Linked DNA regions of Homo sapiens: regions 2, 3 and 4 are each linked to region 1. The links come from fine-mapping of genetic effects on gene expression. A gene starts in region 1. Each other region holds a variant in brackets. All regions are shown on one strand. Distances are between the middles of the regions.

Region 1 (5,216 bases):
AACTCTGGAGCCCAGGATGTTGCTTCCCGGTCTGGTGGTGAATCCTCCATAGTCTGGTGAGTGTAGTGTCCAAGTCTGGAACCCAGGCTGTTGCTTCTTGGTCTTGTGATAAATCCTCCATAGTCTGATGGGTGGGTGTGTGTGTGTGTGTGTGTGTGTGTGTGTGTGTATACACATATACTTTCCCTTCTACCCTTCCCATTGCAATTTGCTTATTATATCTGCATTGCCATTTACATGGGATAAAGGTCGTTTACCCTTAAAGGTATTGTGTATGTGTCTTTTCTTCTCCCCTCACGCATATCCCACAGAGAACAACCAGAAAGGTGGGACAACTCAAAGCATTGATGTGGGGTCAGGGGGCAACACTTTCAGGTCACAGGCAGATTCAGTTTTCTCTGACTGGCAATTGGTTGAAAGAGTTATTATCTATAGACCTGAAATGAACAGAAAGGAATGTCTGGGTTAAGACACAGAGTTGTGGAGACTAAGGTTTTATCATGCAGAGGAAGCCTCCAGGTAGCAGGCTTCAGAGAGAATAGATTGTAAATGTTTCCTTTTTTTTTTTTTTTTTTTTGAGCCGGAGTCTCACTGTGTCGCCCAGGCTGGAGTGCAGTGGTGCAATCTCGGCTCACTGCAAGCTCTGCCTCCCGGGTTCACGCCATTCTCCTGCCTCAGCCTCCCAAGTAGCTGGGACTACAGGGGCCCACCACCACGCCCGGCTAATTTTTTGTATTTTTAGTGGAGACGGGGTTTCATCATGTTAGCCAGGATGGTCTTGATCTCCTGACCTTGTGATCCGCCCACCTCGGCCTCCCAAAGTGCTGGGATTACAGGCATGAGCCACCGCGCCCGGCCGTAAATGTTTCTTATCAGACTTTAAGAGTCGGTTCTGTGCTCTATCAGCCTTAAGGTCTCTGTGTTGATGTTAACACTGGTTAGCAGCTCCTGAATTCTAAAAAGGAGGAGGGAATAAGGAGGCATGTCCAACCCCACTTCCCATCATGGCCTGAGCTAGTTTTTCAGTTTAACTTTGGAATGCCCTGGGCTGAGAATTATTTTCGGTTTACAGAGGAGAACTTATGTTCATTGGTATAGGATGACAATGAGGTCAGACAAATACCACTGAACTTGGCAGGCTGGGAAGTTACAAAGCTTAGCAAGGCCAGTTTCAGTGTCATAGTGGGGTCAAAGCCTCGTTGTTGCCTCAATTCTAGTAGGGTACATATTCCTGTCTTTATTAATGGGAGAGGTTCTTAATCTCCAGCCCATGGACAAAGGAGATCATAGATGGGTTTCAGGAAAACATCCCAAGTCCTGCCTCCAAATTTTGCAAAATTTTGTGCCTGTGTATTTTTCTGGAGAACGTAAACCAAACAGTGTCTGAGACAGGTCTCAGTCTGGAGGTTTATTCTGCCAAGGTTGAGGACACACCCAGGAAAAAGAGACATAAGTTATCATGGAATCTGTGGCCTGTGGTTTTTCCAAAGAGGGTTTTGAGGACTTCAATATTTAAAGGGAAAGAGCAGACAGAAGGGGAAAGAGGAACAACTATGCATTCATTTCACACTCAGTAAATCTGCCTTTTACAGAAGACAAAGTAAACATAGAGGAAGGAGTCAAATATGCATTTTTCTTGGGGTGGACTGAAGGGTGATTTCTAGTCTTGTCCTTGTCCCCTACCTACTGTAAATTTGCATGGTCAGGGTGGAATTCAACAGAAGTGTTGTAAGGTAAAGACTCTGCCACTCACAAGGAATTTCCCTGTGAGCAACTCCTCTGGGAGGCCACCTAGGGAGATATGTGGGCTTCTGTCTTTGCAGCTGTTTAGGAACAGAAGGAAGGCAGTTTTTGCGTGACTCAGTTCACAAGCTTAACTTTTTGTTGTTGTTGTTGTTGTTGAGACAGGGTCTCGCTCTGTCGTCTAGGCTGGACAACAGAGAATGATCTCCACTCACTGCAACCTCCACTTCCGGGTTCAAGAGATTCTCCTGCCTTAGCCTCCCAAGTAGCTGGGATTACAGGCGTGCACCACCACGCCTGGCTAATTTTTGTATTTTTAGTAGAGACAGGGTTTCACCATGTTGACCAGGGTGGTCTTGAATGCCAGACCTCAGATGATCTGCTGGCCTTGGCCTCCTGAGATGGGCATAGTGCTAGTATTACATGTGTGAGCCACTGCGCCCGGCCCTAAGCTTAACTTTTTTCTTTGGCAGAGTTTAGGGTCCCGAGATGTTATTTTCCTTCCACAAGAGACATCCACAGCTTTCACGATGGTTACCGATCATATGTGCCATTCATCTAAGACCAAGGTGACCACCTGGTCCCAAAGCCTGCACCTCGGATTCTTACTCGATTCCCGCCTGGTCTCTTCCAGGCCCTCAGTTAGTTTCCACAACATGGGAGGGTTCCTCCTCCGTGGTCTCGCCCATTCGCGTTCCCACCCACCCTCCCCGGATGTGACGACCCTGGGCTCCCACTCCCCCCCATGAGAGACCATCCACTTCCACCCTTTCACTTAGGCTTCCTGGCGCAGCCTCTATCCAGGAACTCTGTCCCATAGCTGTACTGCCCAGGTCGAGCTTTCTAACCCCAAGATGCCACTCCGTTCAGACGTTCCCATCCTCCATCCCTGAGACCCGGGGCAGGATCGCAGCCTAGGGGCCTCACGGGCCGCCTGCTACCCTGTTAGTTGCAACACGGGGCGGGGCGTGGCTTTGTGCACGTCGGCTTCCGGGAAGAGCTTTACGATACATTGACCGACATTTTACGACAGGCGGGATTGTTTTGTGGCTGTCAGCTTTCCCCGTGGTCTGAGTTTGTGGCTGCATTTTTATCTCTGGTGGCTCTGCTACGGCGGCGCAGAAATGAGGCAGAAGCGGAAAGGTGCGAAAGGGGAAGGAGATGGGGGAAAGGGGTGGTCCGAAAGGGGCGAACGCCCAGGCAATCAAATGCTGAACCGAACTTTTACCGCGAGAATCCGCTACCCAGTCCAGTCGCCCCGCCACCTAGGGTCAGTGTGTCCATTCTGGTCCCCGAGCCTTCTCGTTTTTCCTGTTTTGCTTTTTGAAGCACCCTACCCTTCCTCTCTTCCTCTTTGGCAGTCACGTGGTGTCTTGTTTGAATGGCAGGGAAACCATTATTCCAATATATGCCCTCCGAGGAGTTAACGTCGATTTAACGGGTTGTAGGACTTTTCATTTGTTAAGATTTGTTTCACGACACATTTGACGTGTTAGAGAGTTTCTTTTAAAGCCTTATTTTAAGATATTAAAAAAACCTTAATTATCCTTGGATTCAGTGTAAGAGTTGTGCATGCAATTATTCCCATTTTTATTACATCATGAGTTAGCAATGAACAATTCCACCTTTGGTTTTTCAACAGGACGGATTCAAATTTGAAATATTCTCTCACAGGTTCTGTTCCTATTTCTGTATCTCACAGGTTCTGTTCCTATTTCATTTGACCAGCTGGTCTAATCATGGTAATTGTTGTCAGAATAATAGCTACCATTTATTGAGCTTGTATTTTGAAGTCGGTATCATTTCCATTTTACAGATGAAGAAGCTGAGATTCAAAGAGTTAAGTAACTTTCCCAGACCAAAATTATACTTAGATATGGAGCTGGCTGGTCAGGCTGTATCTGTGACCTCAAAAAACATAAAATGAAAAATAAATACATCGTTAATCCCTATGCTTCTTGACATTAACTGTTATTTTTCTTTCTTCCAAGCAACAATTCTAAGTGTCCAAGTTACCTTAGATTAAGTCTTGTCATATTTGCATGCCCTAAATTAATTTGTTATCTCACTCTAACTTGCTCCTTCTCAATCTACCAGGATTCTTTTAGTTTCTTCTGTCACCAAGTCATGTTGATTCTTACTTAGAAATTACTTCTTGATATAGTTTATTCCTCTTCATTCTGGCCGCCAACCTCCTAACCCACCTTCATCACTAACTAATATTTGAATGGTATTTCAGCTTTCATATACATTATTTATTTGAGTCTTAGAATGGTTTTGTGAAATTTGGATGTATTACCCCAATTTTACAGACAAGGAAATGGGCACTCAAAAGTTGTTGATCTTGGCCAGGCGCGGTGGCTCATGCCGGTAATCCCAGCACTTTGGGAGGCCAAGGCGGGTGGATCACTTGAGGTCAGGAATTGGAGACCAGCCTGACCAACGTGGTGAAACCCTGTCTCTACTAAAAACACAAAAATTAGCCGGGCGTGGTGGCAGGTGCCTGTAATCTAATCCCAGCTACTTGGGAGGCTGAGGCTGAGGCTGAGGCAGAGGCGGGAGAATCACTTGAACCTGGGAGGTGGAGGTTGCAGTGAGCCGAGATCGCACCACTGCACTCCAGCCTGGGTGACCGAGCAAGACTCTGTCTCAAAAAGAAAAAGAAAAAGAAAAAAAATTGTCGATCTTTTCCGTTACCACACAGCCAGTAGGCATTGGGACTGGATCCTGTCTTAGATTTTGTGGGTTTTTTAAAACAATGTTGCCTTTCAAGAGCCATTTGAGTAGTATCCATATTATATGTATTCTTTTTCACTTTCTGAATCATTCTTTGTACCGATAATATTCTTACCTTCCTTAAACGTTACTTTCAACTTTTTATTTCCAAAGTTGAGAATATGCAATTCTTCACTGTCTGTTGCATTCCATTTCAATGCCTTTGCCTAGTGGCCAGGGTCCCCTGTAATCTGTTCTTTATTACACCCTGTTAGAAAGCTGGATTTTAGTTAGGCTGTGCTGTTTCACACAAAGATAGGTAATTCCTATGCCTGACATTATTTCTTCTGGATTGCCTTCTGTTTTGCATGTCCAAATCTTGCCCTATCTTTAAAGATCCCTGTGCCATTTCCTTCATGAAGTCTTTTCCTACTCATTTACTCTTCCAGTTCTTGATACACTCAAGAGCTATACAAGTGGTTTCCAAATCTTATCTGTTCTTATCAGCCGATCCCCTTTTACCCTCCAAATAAATTCTTACACAGAACCTCAATATATAAACAGCTGAAAGCAGAGCTGCTGTGGTGGAAATAAAGAGACCTCCTCCTTTTTTTCCTCCATGCCTTATTTTCCTCTTCCCTTCTCCCTTCCTCTGCCATGACCACCACCAGTCCTACCTCTGTTGCATGGCCCCTGAGGCACCTTTGTAGAACTCTGGAAGTGCTGAGTTACATGGTTTGGAAAGCATTTAGCCTTTG
Region 2 (4,000 bases), 84 kb after region 1:
CAGCACTTTAAATGTGCCATCCCATTGCCTTCTGACCTCCATAGTTTCTAATATCAGTTGTTAGTCTAATTGAGGATTCCTTCTATGTGATGACTCATTTTGCCTCTTGCTGCTTTCAAGATTCTCTCAGGTTTTCAACAGTTTGACTCATATTGTGATCATTGTGGATCTCTTTGAGGCTATCCTGCTTGGAATTTGCTGAGCTTCTTGAATGTATAGATTCATGTCTTTCAACAAATTTGGGAAGTATTCAGCCATTTCTTTAAACATTTTTTTCTACCCTTTATGTCTCTCATCTCCCTCTGAAACTCCAGCAATGCATATATTGGTATGCTTGATGGTATCCCCCACGTCTTTTATTTTTCTACATTTTTTCTTTCTGCTCCTCAGACTAGATAAATTCAGTTGCATTATCTTAAAGTCCACTGATTCTGTCTGCTGCCTCCTCTTAACTGCCATTGAACACCTCTAGTGAATTTTTTATTTTTACTATCATACATCTCTGTGCCAGAATTTCTATTTTTTAATATAATTCCTGTCTATTGACATTCCTTTTTGATAGTATCCCCTTGATATCCTTTCTTTGTCCATGGTTTCTTGTAACTCCTTAGGCATATTTAATACAGTTGATTTAATGTCTTTGAGTAGTAATCCCAGTGTCTGGATTTCCTCAGGAATAATTTCTGTTGAATTCTTTTTTCCTGTGAATGAGCCATTCTTCCCTGTTCTTTGTATGCTTTACAATTTTATATTGAACTACTGAGAACTACACAATTAGTATAATGTGGTAACTCTGGAAATCATTCTTCTCTTTCTGAGGAGTTGCTTTTGAGGTCTGTAATCATGCATTTGTCTAGTGACTTTTTTTTTTTTTTTTTTTTTGGGGAGTCAGTCTTGCTCTGTTACCCAAGCTGGAGTACAGTGGCATGATCTCGGCTCACTGCAACCTCCGCCTCGCGGTTTCAAGCTATTCTCCTGCCTCAGCCTCCCTAGTAGCTGGGATTACAGGCATGTGCCACCAGGCCTGGCTAATTTTTTTGTATTTTTATTAGAGACGGGGTTTCACCTTGTTGGCCAAGCTAGTCTCGAACTCCTGACCTCAAGTGATCCACCTGCCTTGGCCTCCCAAAGTGCTAGGATTACAGGCATGAGCCACTGCACCCGGCCCTGTCTAGTGACTTTTCCAAACTATTTTTGCAAAGTCTGAGTGTTCTTCATTGTGTGTGTAGTCACTGAAATTTCTGTTCTTATCTCTATGATCAGCCTGTGACCTGAGAGGGATTTTTCTTAAATGTCTGGTTCAAAAAAAGAAAAAAGGATGTGTATCTCTTCAAATCTTTTGATACACTCCACGAAGGAAGTGAGATGGGGTCAAAACAAAGACAAGTGTCTGCACTGGTCCTTCCAGGAACCTCCAAAGTGAACATAATACACAGCCCTATATTTTTGGAGGACTAGGTCCTTATTGCCCACTCCAGTTCCAGCCAGCTGCTCCAGGAAAATAAGTTACCATTCCTGTGGCTACGGTGGAGCTAAGGAATGGGGGATGGTTGGTGGCTTAAGCATGCTGTTCCCTGAGTGAAGTTTTACAGCCTCTCCCTCATCAGACACTCCCCTAGTCACTGTAAGTATCTTACCAAGTTCCAGCATTCCAAAATAGTTGGTTGCAATTATTTTTTTTCCAGCGTAATCGTCGTTTTAGCAGAAGGATGAATCTCTGAAAATTCCTACCTTGCCATTTTCCCTCTTGAAGTCTGTATTTAAAGAGACTATAAATAGAAGGGGTCCCTCTTCCTACCAGGTTATAAGATGGTACAGTCTAACTTCTGCAGAGACACACTAATGATTTTTGACATGAGTAAAGAAGTGAGAATGATGTGTGACATAGCAAACATCCTGCACTGATAGAAACAGAGACCCTCTATTTTTGAATCAGTTGATTGTGGGCCATCCTATGTCACATCATAGGCCAGACTCCCTGAAAGAAAAAAACTCTCTAAGAGCTGTAAGATAACCCACCAGCATCACCCAACTGTAAGTTACCATGGTAGTATCTATTTAGATTCTGTATACCTCCTTTGTAAATTACCTAATTTTATTCTTTGTTCTTATCTTGGTAGCCTTTTCAAAATGTGTAGAAGAACCTTTAGGCTGCTGGGTAGGAGACTCTCTTGAGGTACTCTGTATTTCCACAGTGATGGAGAATAATGTATACTGTGTTAGTTGCAATAACCAGTTTGAAGAACTAAGATTATACATGGGTAACCTTTGTATGATTTTTTTTTTAATAGAATGGGGAAAAAATTCTGAAAGGTTTAGGGTCGTGTAGTTAATTGGTTCATTTTCAAACATTCAGGATAGAAACCTTTTCCCAACTTTGATATCAGTGTACATTGT[T/C]GAAGAGTAAAATATCGCCATCCTGGCAGGAGATCAATGAGAAATAATAAAGTCTCATTTCAATAGCAAGTGAATGAAACTAATGAATATATTTCCTTGTGTTAATGTTGGTAGATACATCAAGTAGGCAATAGTTGATTAATTGAACCCAAAAGCAATTAAAACAGTTTAATTTGTTTTTATTTCACTGATTTCTTTTAATTAAACAATCATAAATCATCTGAATGTTTTGCATCTAATCAAAACAGAAATTTGAGCTTTAAAGGATAGATTTACAAGTTTGGCTGTGAGAATGTGATGTGGGCTCAATTTTAATTCTGTCTAAGAACACATTACTAGCAGTGAAGGGTGGCCTATGTCCTAACAAGTAAGCATCAAAGAACAAGAATGCACCTGTAATAGCTAATTCATTTTCCTGCTTCAGACATGAAAACATTTAAATTATTAAGCCAAGGTTTTTCTTAAGGAATTCCAAGAGATAAAACTCTTCAATTTCCAGGCTCCTAGTACATACTGAGCAAATACTTGATCAATTAAACTTATTTCTTCCTCTGTTACATCACATTAATAATTCCACGTTCATTCTTTATCCAGTTGGAATCACAACCCTGGCTCACTTGTTTTTCCATAGATGTGAAGAATTGATTTCATTCCCCATTTAAGCAGTCACATAGTTGAGATTATTTAATCTTGCCTTCTTTTTCATTTTAAAAGTTTACTGGAAGCTGTAACAAATAGCAGAGTTTATAAAATGTTAAATAACACCTGTATGTCTTAGCTCACTCAGGCTGCTATAACAAAACTGGGTAATTTATAAATGAGAAATTTCTCATAGTTCTAGAGGCCTCGTGACCTAATTGTCACCCAAAGACCTTACCTCTTAATACTATTGCATTGGGGATTAAGTTTCAACATACGAATTTTGTGGGGGATACACATTCGGACCATCGCACTCTCTAACCCCCACTTATGTCAATAACCAGCATCCAAGAAGTGCCTCTGTTGGCCCTTCCCTCTTCCTTCCCAGTATCCTAACTTTTTTGGTATTTTCTTCGTAAGTATGTATCCCTTAACTACATGGTCTAGTTTTGTTGTTGCATATTTTTGTTCTGGTTACTTTTGCTCAACATTGCTGTAAGATTGAGTCAACGTTGTAGTAGCTGTATTTCATTCCTTTTCATTGATATATGGGATTCCATTATGCTGATAGTTCACGATTTATCCGTCTTAACTCTTGCTGGGTTTCCAGGTTAGAGTTATGAATATTCTTGTGTATGTATTTTGGGACACATAAGGACATATTTCTGTAGAATGTACACCTAAGAGTGCAATTGCTGGGTTGTAGAGAGTACATAGATTTAGCTGAGGATTCTGCCAAGTGGCTTTCTAAAGTGCTTCTACAATTTTTCACTACTACAGGAAATGTATGAGTTTTAGTTGTTCCATTCTGATGAATATGAGTGGCATTTCTTTGTGGTTTTAATTTGCGTTCCCTGATAACTGATGATTTTGACTACCTTTTCATGTGTTTACTGGCCATTTGGAGATCCTCTTTCTGAAGTTGCTGTGTGCACATGTGTGTGTGAGTTTTTCTAAAATCCAC
Region 3 (5,216 bases), 96 kb after region 1:
CACCGAGCTGTATACTTAAAAGCAAAAATATCCTCAAAATGGCTTAAACCAAATGGAAAATATTTCATAAGAAATATATAGAGAAGCTTTGGGACTGATTAATTCAGGGTTCGGCAATTTCAAAAAGGAGCCAGGTGGCTCTGCCTTCTCACTCTTCATCACCACTTCAGCCCCTTGGAAGACAACTGCCCCCGTCCGAAATTACCTTGCAAAGCAACATCCAAGAAAAGAGACCGTCCCTAAGTCCATTTTCGATTGCTTATAACAGGATACCTGAAAGGGAATTTATTTATTACAGTTTTGGAGGCTGAAAAGTCCAAGGTCAAAGGGCTGGATCTAGTGAGGGCCTTCTTGCAGGTGGGGACTTTCTGTGGAGTCCTGCGGTGGCACAGGATAGCACATGGCATCACACAGTGGTAGGGCTGCATGTGCCAGCTCAGGACCCTGTTCCTCTTCTTGTAAAACCACTAGAACTCATTATCCTGTTAGTCCATGAATAGATTAATCCTTTCATGAGGGCAGAGCCCTCACACTCTAGTCACCTCTTCATAGCCCCACCTCTCAGTAATAGGGATTAAGTTTCAACATGAGTTTCAGAGGAGACAAATACCTAACCCATAGCACTCCCTGTGTCTCTTTAAGAACAACAAAAGCTTCCAAAATCAGAGTCTTCAGCATCTTGGCATGAATGTCTAGCAGCCATTCCACATGCAGCCTGACTGGAGCCCCACTCCTGATTCCTCTTGCAAGCTCTTCCCACCATCTCCTCACTCCCAGGCAGTGGTGGCTCCTGTTTCTCCAGACTCTTCCTTTACTCAGGCTAAATACCCTGGAGTCGCCTTGGCTCCCGTCACACCCCACATCCGTTGGCAGATTCTTTTCACTCTGCCTTCCACATATGCCCAGGCTCTGGGTACTTTTCACCACTGTGACTCAGCCCGAGCCACCACCATCTCCCACCTGGATTATTGTCATCGCTTCCTACCTGATCTCCCTATTTCTGCCCTTGGTCACATATCCATTCAGTGAGCAAATATTTACCGTGTACCTCACATGTGACAGGCATCACTCTGGGTACTGGCAGCTCTACAGTGAATAAAACAAAATCCCTGCCCTCCTGGAGCCTTCATTCTGTTCTCAAAACAGCAGTCAGATCATGTCCCTCCTTTGACCAGCATCCTCTCATTCTTCCATCTCACTCAGAATAAAAGCCAGATTCCTTAGGAGACCTGCATGATGGTGCCTCCTTGTTCCTTGAGTAAGTTGAGTGCACGCCCGTCTCAGGACTTTCACATTTGTTTTTCCTGCTCCCTAGAATCCTGTCCCCCCCATGTAGCCTCAGGCCTTTCTCTTTCATTTTATTCAAGTCTCTTGATTTGGAATTTGACAGAAAGATGGGAATGAGTTGCCCTGAACAACTGGCAGTGGAGTGGCCATTTACAGAGAGGGAGCTTCCTGCGGAGGGAGCTTGCGGGGCAGGTTACCAGGAGTTGGGTTTTTGACCTGCTACACCTTCCATGCAATTTAGACATTCAGGTGGGTCATGCAGCACCTGTGGACGAATCTGAGGCTCAAGGAGAGCTCTGAGTGACAGATTTAGGGGTTGCCAGTGTATACATAGGTTTACGCTCAGTGTCACAGGAAGCGCGTGCACAGAAGAGCTGCATATTGCAGTGATTTCAGTTAGGGATACGAGGAGGAAGCAGCAAAGGAGACTAAGGAAGGGCAGCCAGCGAGCTAGAGGAGAATCAGGAGATGCACTTCTCCAAAGCCCAGTGCAGGGACGTGCAGAGAGGGAGGGAAGGACGGAGGGAGTGCCTGTGGCAGGTGCTGCTGATCGCTCTCCCCGCCCAGCCTCAGCTGTCTCACTCCCAGGCACAGACAGCCGGGCTGTTTGAGGAATGCGTCCAATATGCAGGGGTAATGGACCTTTAGTACCAACTTCAACTAGTTCATGTTCCTTGAATGTTGAGACATCATAAAAAATATAATTTGGTCTCTGTTCCTGGTTCCTGACATAGAGCTCCTAAAACCCTTGTAATTTTCTGAGCTGCAGGGGTT[CAAGGGGCATCTTTTGTTCT/C]AATCTGGTGACTCTTGGTGGGCTCCTGGGTGGGGACCTGTCACCAGAAAAATGAAGCCATGAGGAGAGGGTTGAACCTTCAGCCCCACCCTCCCTCCTCCGGGGAGGGAAGGGGGCTGGAAATGGAGTTAGTAATTGATCATACCTACACAATGAAACTCCATAAAAATCCCTAAAAGATGGGGTTCAGAGAACTTTTCATTTTGGCAAACACATCCACTTGCTGGGAGCATGGTGCACCCCAACGCGGTGGGGACAAACACTTCTGTGCTCGGGACCCTCCCAGACCTCACCCAGTGTGCCTTTTCACCTGGCTGTTCACTTGTATCTTTTATCATATCCTGTAATAAACTGGTAAACGTAAGTAAATGTTTCCCTGAGCTCTGTGAGCCATTATGACAAATTATCAAATCTGAGGAGGGGCTTGTAGGAACCCTCCATTTGTAGCCAACTTGGACAGCAGTTGTAGGCAACCTGCAGCCCCTCTGCTTGCAATTGGTGTCTGAAGTTGGGGGCAGTCTCTGGACTGAGCTCAGAACTGGGGGGCCTTGCGCTCATCAGAGTAGGTAGGGTCCAAATTGAGTTAAATTATAGAACACCCAGTTGGTGTCAACAGAGAACTGGACAGTTGCTTGGTATGGAAAACCTACACTTCTCTTCACAAACCACACTTCATGAGCCAGGGCCATCCCAGCAAAGCTGCTTCTTTGACACCAACTGATGAGGAAAACACTTTTTCCTGTTAAGCCTTGTATACTTCCAACACTTCTGACAGTAGCCACAAGTGTACCTTCGCTACTGGGGCTGAGTGGAGATCCCATTTTTTCCCCCACTCTTCTCTCTTTAAAACTTCTGGGAAACCGTCTATCGTTTGGCCTCATCTGGAGCATAGGCAGCTCAGACAGTAAATCCACCTCTTCTCCTTCACCTGTAGCACCTAAGGTGGTGCCTGGTGTTGCCAGTAGGGTAGTGAATACGCAGGCTCCAACACACGGGTGCACACGTTTGCTGTTGCCTGTGAGTGTGTGTGTCACATACCCTGAGCTTGAGTTAAAAATCAGGGAAAGAGTCTTCTTCTCTCCACTTAGCAGTTTCTATATTTTAATGCAGCCTGAATTCAAAGTAATAATGTTCCAAACTTATTAAGCTGAGATTTTATGTGGGAGAGAATTTGGTCTCTGGGTGGGAGAGAGTGTAAGGCTGAGGGAAGCACATGCCGACTTTTGAGAATTGCTAAAGTGAATGCTCCTTTTTTAACTTCGATTTTTCTGCAGGGGTCGGCACCAGGAATTATTATAGAAAGATCGGCTACAGATTACAAGGCCCGTACATGGTGAAGATGCTGAAATAATGGCCACACCAGTCCACTCTTCTGCAGTATCCTCCCTGGCAGAACACGGAGAATCAGGATTTCTTAAATACTCAACAGAGAGGCTGAGCAGAGCAAATGGGGGGCTTCACCCTCATCCCGCAGCTGCAGAGACTGGAAACTGCCTTCAAGGCCACGGCTGGTCATCTGCTGACCACACCCCAGATCCGCCCTCTCCTGCGTGCACCCCAAAAAATCACTTGCGTTTTTGAGGCTTAAATCATCTATCCAGTTTCTACATTTTGCATGAGGCCTGCAGGTGGCCTATTTTGACTCAGACGGTGAAAAAAGCAAATTAACTCATTTGGACACCATAACTCATGCAATAAAACTGATTGTCATTCGAGGAGCAAACTTAAGAGTAGTTTATTTATATACCCTGGGGACAGAAAGTCAGGTTGAAACAGGAAAACCACCAGACTCTAATCTCAGCCCTTTAACGACATACGCATTGGAGCGCAAGTTAGGAAAATGAGCTTTTGTTTTCATGGAAATCATTCTGATTACAGTGCTGATGTTTAGAAATAAATAGCAGTGTGACTGGGAAAGAGGAATTGCAGTTGTGGGGGTGTGAGCCTGGCAGCAGCCAGCCAGCAGCCTCTCCCAGGCGGGAGTCTACCATCCGAGACGGCGATGACAAAGAGCTTCATTCCACATTCTTTGTTATCTCTACTTCCCACCCTCTTGGCAACTACAGAGCAGTGTGGGCAGCCCCAAGTGTGGTCCCCAGAGAGCGTTTGGCTTTCCTGTCTGTCTATCCTGAGCGGGTGGAGTCTCAGGTTGTGTGCCCCTAAATCAAGATTTGCTTCCACAGAAGCCATTACTTGCAATTTTTTTTTTTTTTCTGAGAAAGTCTCGCTGTGTCACCCAGGCTGGAGTGCAGTGGCGCAATCTCACTGCATCCTCCGCCTCCCGGGTTCAAGCGATTCTCCCGCCTCAGCCTCCTGAGTAGCTGGGATTACAGGCACCCGCCGCTGCTAATTTTTGTATTTTTAGTAGAGATGGGGGTTTCACCATATTGGTCAGGCTGGTCTCGAACTCCTGACCTCAGGTGATCAACCCACCTTGGCCTCCCTAAATGCCGGGATTACAGGCATGAGCCACCGCTCCCAGCCTTTGATTTTTTAAGGTGGATTTTGGTTGTTATAAATGGAGAAAGGTAAGAGTTCAAGTTCAACCCGTGTGTGAAAGCAAAACAATGGAAAACAGGATTGGCTTCTTCAAAGGCTCCTCTTGTAGAACTGCCTCTTTGAAATTTCGAGGTAATCTACTTTGGAGACTCTGCCTGGAGAGGGTCAGTTCCTAAGTTAAAAGCATCGCTTAACCTTGGCTCCTGTGGCATTTTACAAAGGTTTAAAGGAATTGATTCCTCTGAAAGGGCCTGAAAATAAAAAGTCTTTAACATACAAAGAAGAGTCATGTGGTTTTCTTTCTCTCCCTGTAAATGCAGTGACATTTGCCACAAATGTGCAGGTTTCAGTTTCCAACCTATGGCACTGTTCATTTCCTCCCGGGTGCTGTTTGCCATTTCATTAAACTGCTATGAGGCAAATGGCAGTGGCTTTGTTATGGGCTGGCTGTGGAACCACCACAGCTTTCCATGAGTGTCGTTTAGGGACTTAGCTACTTCTCAATTATGCTTTTTTACCCTATAAAAATAAAACAATAAAGCCTACTCCCGCTGGTTGTCAGAGCTGTGTTGCTGGAGACAGAACCAGCTGCGCAGCCCTGGAGCACAAAGTCTCTGGGCCTCGACCTTCTCATCTG
Region 4 (4,000 bases), 32 kb after region 1:
CTTCTCAAAAAAAGAGAAAAAAAGCTTGGCCATCATTTTAGACATTTTCCTCAAAGCACTGCTTTAGCTGAATCCCACACATTTTGATATGGTGTATTTTAATTATTATTCAATTCAAAATATTTTTTCATACCCTTTATATATATGTATTTGATCCATGGAATGTATAGGAATGGGGTGTTTAATTTCCAAATTTCCAGACAATGAGGTTTTTCTTGATATCTTATTAATTTCTAATTTATTTTCATTTTGGCCAGAGAACCTACTCTGTATAATTTTGGTGTTTTAAAATTTATTGAGACTTGTTTTGTGGCCCAGCATATGTGGTCTCTCTTGGTGAACATGCCATGTGTGTTTGTAAAGAATGTGTGTTCTCAGTTGCTGGGTGTCATGTTCTATAAATATCAGTTAAACCAAGATGGTTGGTAGTAGTGTTCAGGTAAATTTTGTTTTTTATTCTTTTGTAGTTCTATCAATTGCTAAGAGATTGAAATCTCCAAGTATGATTGAGGAACTCTGTACATCTCTCTTCATTTATATTGATTTTTACTGAATGTATTTTGTAAATCTGTTATTAGGTACATACACATCTATGATTGCTGTGTTTTCCTGATGTATGAGCTTTTCACCATTGTGAAATTACCTCTTTATCATCATGAGATGTCCTTCCGCATCCCTGGTCTTGCAGTTTACTTGGTGTTAATTTAGCCGTCATGTGCTTACTGTTTGCCCTGTGTATTATCCTTTTCCATACATTTGCTTTCCACCCATGTTTCTTTATCTTGAAAATGCATTTCTTTAGACAGAAGTCTACAGTAATTGGCTCTTTTTTTTTTTATCCATTTTGCTCGTGTGTGCCTTTTAATTGGAGTGTTTAGTCTGTTAACATTTGATGTAATTATTGATACATCAGTTTAAGCTGATGGTTTGATTTATATCTGCCAGTTTAATCATCTCCTCACTTTGGTTTTCAGTAGCCAAGAATAATAGTTGTAATGAATACTATTATGGTCTAATTCTTTATAATGTATTTTTTCTATATCCTTTAATAGGGAATATCTTCTTAAGAGAAAGGTAGAGGACTCCTTATATCTAGTACAATGCCTTAAGCATAGAATTCTGGTACTTAATAAATGCTAAGTGAATGCGGTGGAAAGAACTGTCCCTTAAGAATCAGGAGACATAGTCTCCAGACTTATTTATATTATTATTTTGCATTATTACCTGGTTTAATCCACTTATTTTGTGTGTGTGATTTAGTTTCCTCATCTATAAAAATGAGGAGGTTTAGGACTATATTATCTCTAAAATTATACCTTTCTGTCATCTATGATTTGAAGCTTTCTAATGAAGAGAATTTTTATCTAAAAGATATGTTCACAAGTTATTCTTCATTTAGCAACCACTTTCTGACAATCATTTTCTATAATGTTTTTATGTATATAACCCTTAAATTTCAATGTGGATATAATATTAAAAGAATGCAATATCTGTGATTCTTTTTTTCTTTTCTATTAATAATGTGTTGCTGCTGGTTCTTTAGCTACACGAGGGGACTACAAAATGATAGTTTTTGTCAGCCATGAAAAAAATCAAACCTCAAACAAAATGTTATAAGCTGTTTTTATATATCTTAAGCCCTGCCAGCTAATGTGATAGGGCACAAGGGTCTTTGATTAGTCTGTAAGCTGCAGTGCCACCAGGTTGGTTTTTCATAGGTAGTACTCATTTTTAAATCAAAATTCTGTCGTTACTTCATTTTGTGTTGGGCGTGGTTAATTTATAGAACCTCATGATATAACCACCAATATCGAGGAAGCAGACTTGACTACCATCTCAAAAAAAGATTGGGGGTAATAGTTATTTTTAAATCCTCAAGCACATCAAACATCCAACTCAGTTAAGTCTAGAGCATCACTAGCAGAGCATTGGGCAGAACTTCAAATTTTATTGAGGTATTTTCAAGATAGGGTAATAGTTAAGAAGAGGAATTTGTTCATGGTGCTGCTGCCAAGGAGTTACACCAATAACTCAAGGTGTTATCAACAATTCAAACAAATCTGGCTGTTCAAAGAAGTGAGTAAACTCCACTGACTTGTTTTGGGACCGTAGATGGAGAAGAGATTGTATGTTGTGACTAACGAAAATGAATATTTCATCTCTGTACCATTTTTTACTGTGCAATTTGGTTTGAACAGGTTGAGTATGAGGTTGCAGCATGTCCACACAGGGAATGTTCTGTAAGCCATTCAGCAACTTGAGCCTTGAGTTCTTGTGAGAGTTTAAGCAGGACTAGACTCAGGCACATCCAGTTGCAGT[A/G]AGGACAGAGGTTTTGAAAGAGGAGCTGCCACGAATTATTTGTAATGAGAGGTGCCCACCTCTTTGATACCACAGCTTCTTGGAGTGAAACAAAAGATAGTTTCCAGAAGATAATAAAGAGACTTTAAAATCAGTGTGCTATCTTCCTTCCATCAGTGTCCCCCTGGTTGGGCCCTTAGTGCAAGGAGACAGTAATAATAGATAGTGCTTCTGTCAAAAGGTCGCTTTCTTCTTTCCAGAAATAGAAACATGCTTCCCAAGAAATAATCTAAATCTATTTATATTTCTGCCACTTCTAGCTTTTTGTTCTGTAGTCATTTCTCTTTTTTTTTTTTTTTTTTTTTTTCTGTATGTCTTATCCCCCCAGCTAGATTGTTAAGCATGTCTGGGACAGGAACTATTATATTTTTACTTTCTGAAGAATACCTGGCCTACTGCTAGGCACCTTCTAAGGTTAACTTTTTGCAAGAGGAAAGATAAGCGGTAGATGTATCTGGAGGCTGCTGTTGGAGTGAAGAGAGACCTCCTATGTTCCCAGTTATGCCTAATTCATTTATTCCTTCTTCAAATTTGTAATTTTTTTTTAATCAACGGAGAATTTTTAGTGTTGAAGCCTTTTAGCCTCTAGACATGTTTGAGCCTGCTGGCTTTCAGGGGCTTCCTGTCCAGATGGAGAGACAGACATAACCACAAATAACAAGGCTGACTACTTGTAGTGTGGGCAGGGTGCTTGGGAATGGGAGCACTGAGATCTCACTGAGGGTGGAGGGGTTCTGGGAAGATGTCATTAGGGGAGAAATGTATTGGAGCTCTGTTTTGAAGGCTGGTAGCCTTTGGTTTTTGTTTGCTTTTAAATTCCTGGGTTATTGTCCCATTTCTCTTCACCCCTGCTCCACAATTTTTAAAAATTCTGTCAACGTAAGGTTTTGACTTAAGCTATGCTTCACAGAGAACATAGCATCTTTTATAGCTGGTGCCACTCCTATGGCATACAGAAAAGCGTAGGATTCAACATAACCCCACAGTGTTGAGCTGTACAGGCTTAAAATGAACCTGTAATACCACAAAAAGAGCAGTGGAATTGGAATCAGAGGATCCCTTTTGAGTCTTGGCCTTGTCTCTCGAGAAGTTGACAGAGTTGCTGCATGCCGAAGAACTTGTAGCCCCCAAAGAGGTATGGGAGTTGAACTAGGTACTGAAGGAGAGCCATGCTTTTGGATGGCTGTCTAAGTGGCACATACTGTTGGATAGCTACCTAAATGATACAGGGGGATCATATTAATACCAGGCCATAAAGTGTCAGCACAGATTGGTTGAAAGCCTGTATGCGCATATTTGCATATTAAAGAACAGTTATGTTGATATATTTACATCTCTGTTAAATGAAGAATCAGATTTGGTGAGATGTAGGATTAGATATAGTATCAAAAAATTTTCATGAGAATACAGTAAGCCTATGGGAAAAATTCATTGTTTTGTCATTCAAATTTGATACAAATTTCTGTTTAATTGCTTTTCAGATGCAAATACAATTCTGGAAAGAGGAAATATAGTGAAAGCCTTTTTATAAATATAAAATATTTTTTCAAAACTTGAGTTGTTTTTTTCTTCCACCATTTCTGTTGCTGCAAAAGGTAATGACATTTCCCGCCTGAGGAAAAACATTTTTGAAATGGAGTTA

Direction of the effects. Alleles are on the strand shown, and positions count from the first base shown. SD is a standard deviation of normalised expression in the study named. Not every link is listed here.
For the expression in unexposed skin of the gene that starts at base 2,792 in region 1, C is the low allele of the variant in region 2 and T is the other (small effect, 0.28 SD a copy in GTEx).
For the expression in amygdala of the gene that starts at base 2,792 in region 1, allele G in region 4 goes with a higher level than allele A (moderate effect, 0.67 SD a copy in GTEx).

What was found. PIP is the estimated chance that this variant, and not a neighbour inherited with it, causes the effect. A credible set is the group of variants that fine-mapping cannot tell apart.
Region 2: its variant is the best candidate, but not a certain one, in a credible set for the expression of ELP3 in unexposed skin (GTEx, PIP 0.60).
Region 3: its variant is the best candidate, but not a certain one, in a credible set for the expression of ELP3 in blood mononuclear cells (TOPMed, PIP 0.69).
Region 4: its variant is the best candidate, but not a certain one, in a credible set for the expression of ELP3 in amygdala (GTEx, PIP 0.61).

What each region holds. Positions count from the first base shown.
Region 1 is chr8:28,090,348-28,095,563 of GRCh38, forward strand. ELP3 (elongator acetyltransferase complex subunit 3) reads left to right here and starts at 2,792. Exons shown (of 15, transcript NM_018091.6): 1 at 2,792-2,886. The coding sequence starts at 2,868. RefSeq lists enhancers at 2,373-2,926, 2,418-2,467.
Region 2 is chr8:28,174,950-28,178,949 of GRCh38, forward strand. The region is part of intron 14 of ELP3 (elongator acetyltransferase complex subunit 3); the gene reads left to right. It overlaps LOC105379343 (a long non-coding RNA gene), which reads right to left. Exons shown (of 2, transcript XR_949614.3): 2 at 1-3,122. Among named protein-coding and RNA genes, the nearest start is that of ELP3, 84 kb to the left of the region's middle. The variant T/C (reference allele first, on the strand shown) is at 2,398.
Region 3 is chr8:28,186,295-28,191,510 of GRCh38, forward strand. ELP3 (elongator acetyltransferase complex subunit 3) reads left to right here. Exons shown (of 15, transcript NM_018091.6): 15 at 3,355-4,859. The coding sequence ends at 3,431. Among named protein-coding and RNA genes, the nearest start is that of ELP3, 96 kb to the left of the region's middle. The variant CAAGGGGCATCTTTTGTTCT/C (reference allele first, on the strand shown) is at 2,062.
Region 4 is chr8:28,123,118-28,127,117 of GRCh38, forward strand. All of the region lies in intron 7 of ELP3 (elongator acetyltransferase complex subunit 3), which reads left to right. Among named protein-coding and RNA genes, the nearest start is that of ELP3, 32 kb to the left of the region's middle. The variant A/G (reference allele first, on the strand shown) is at 2,320.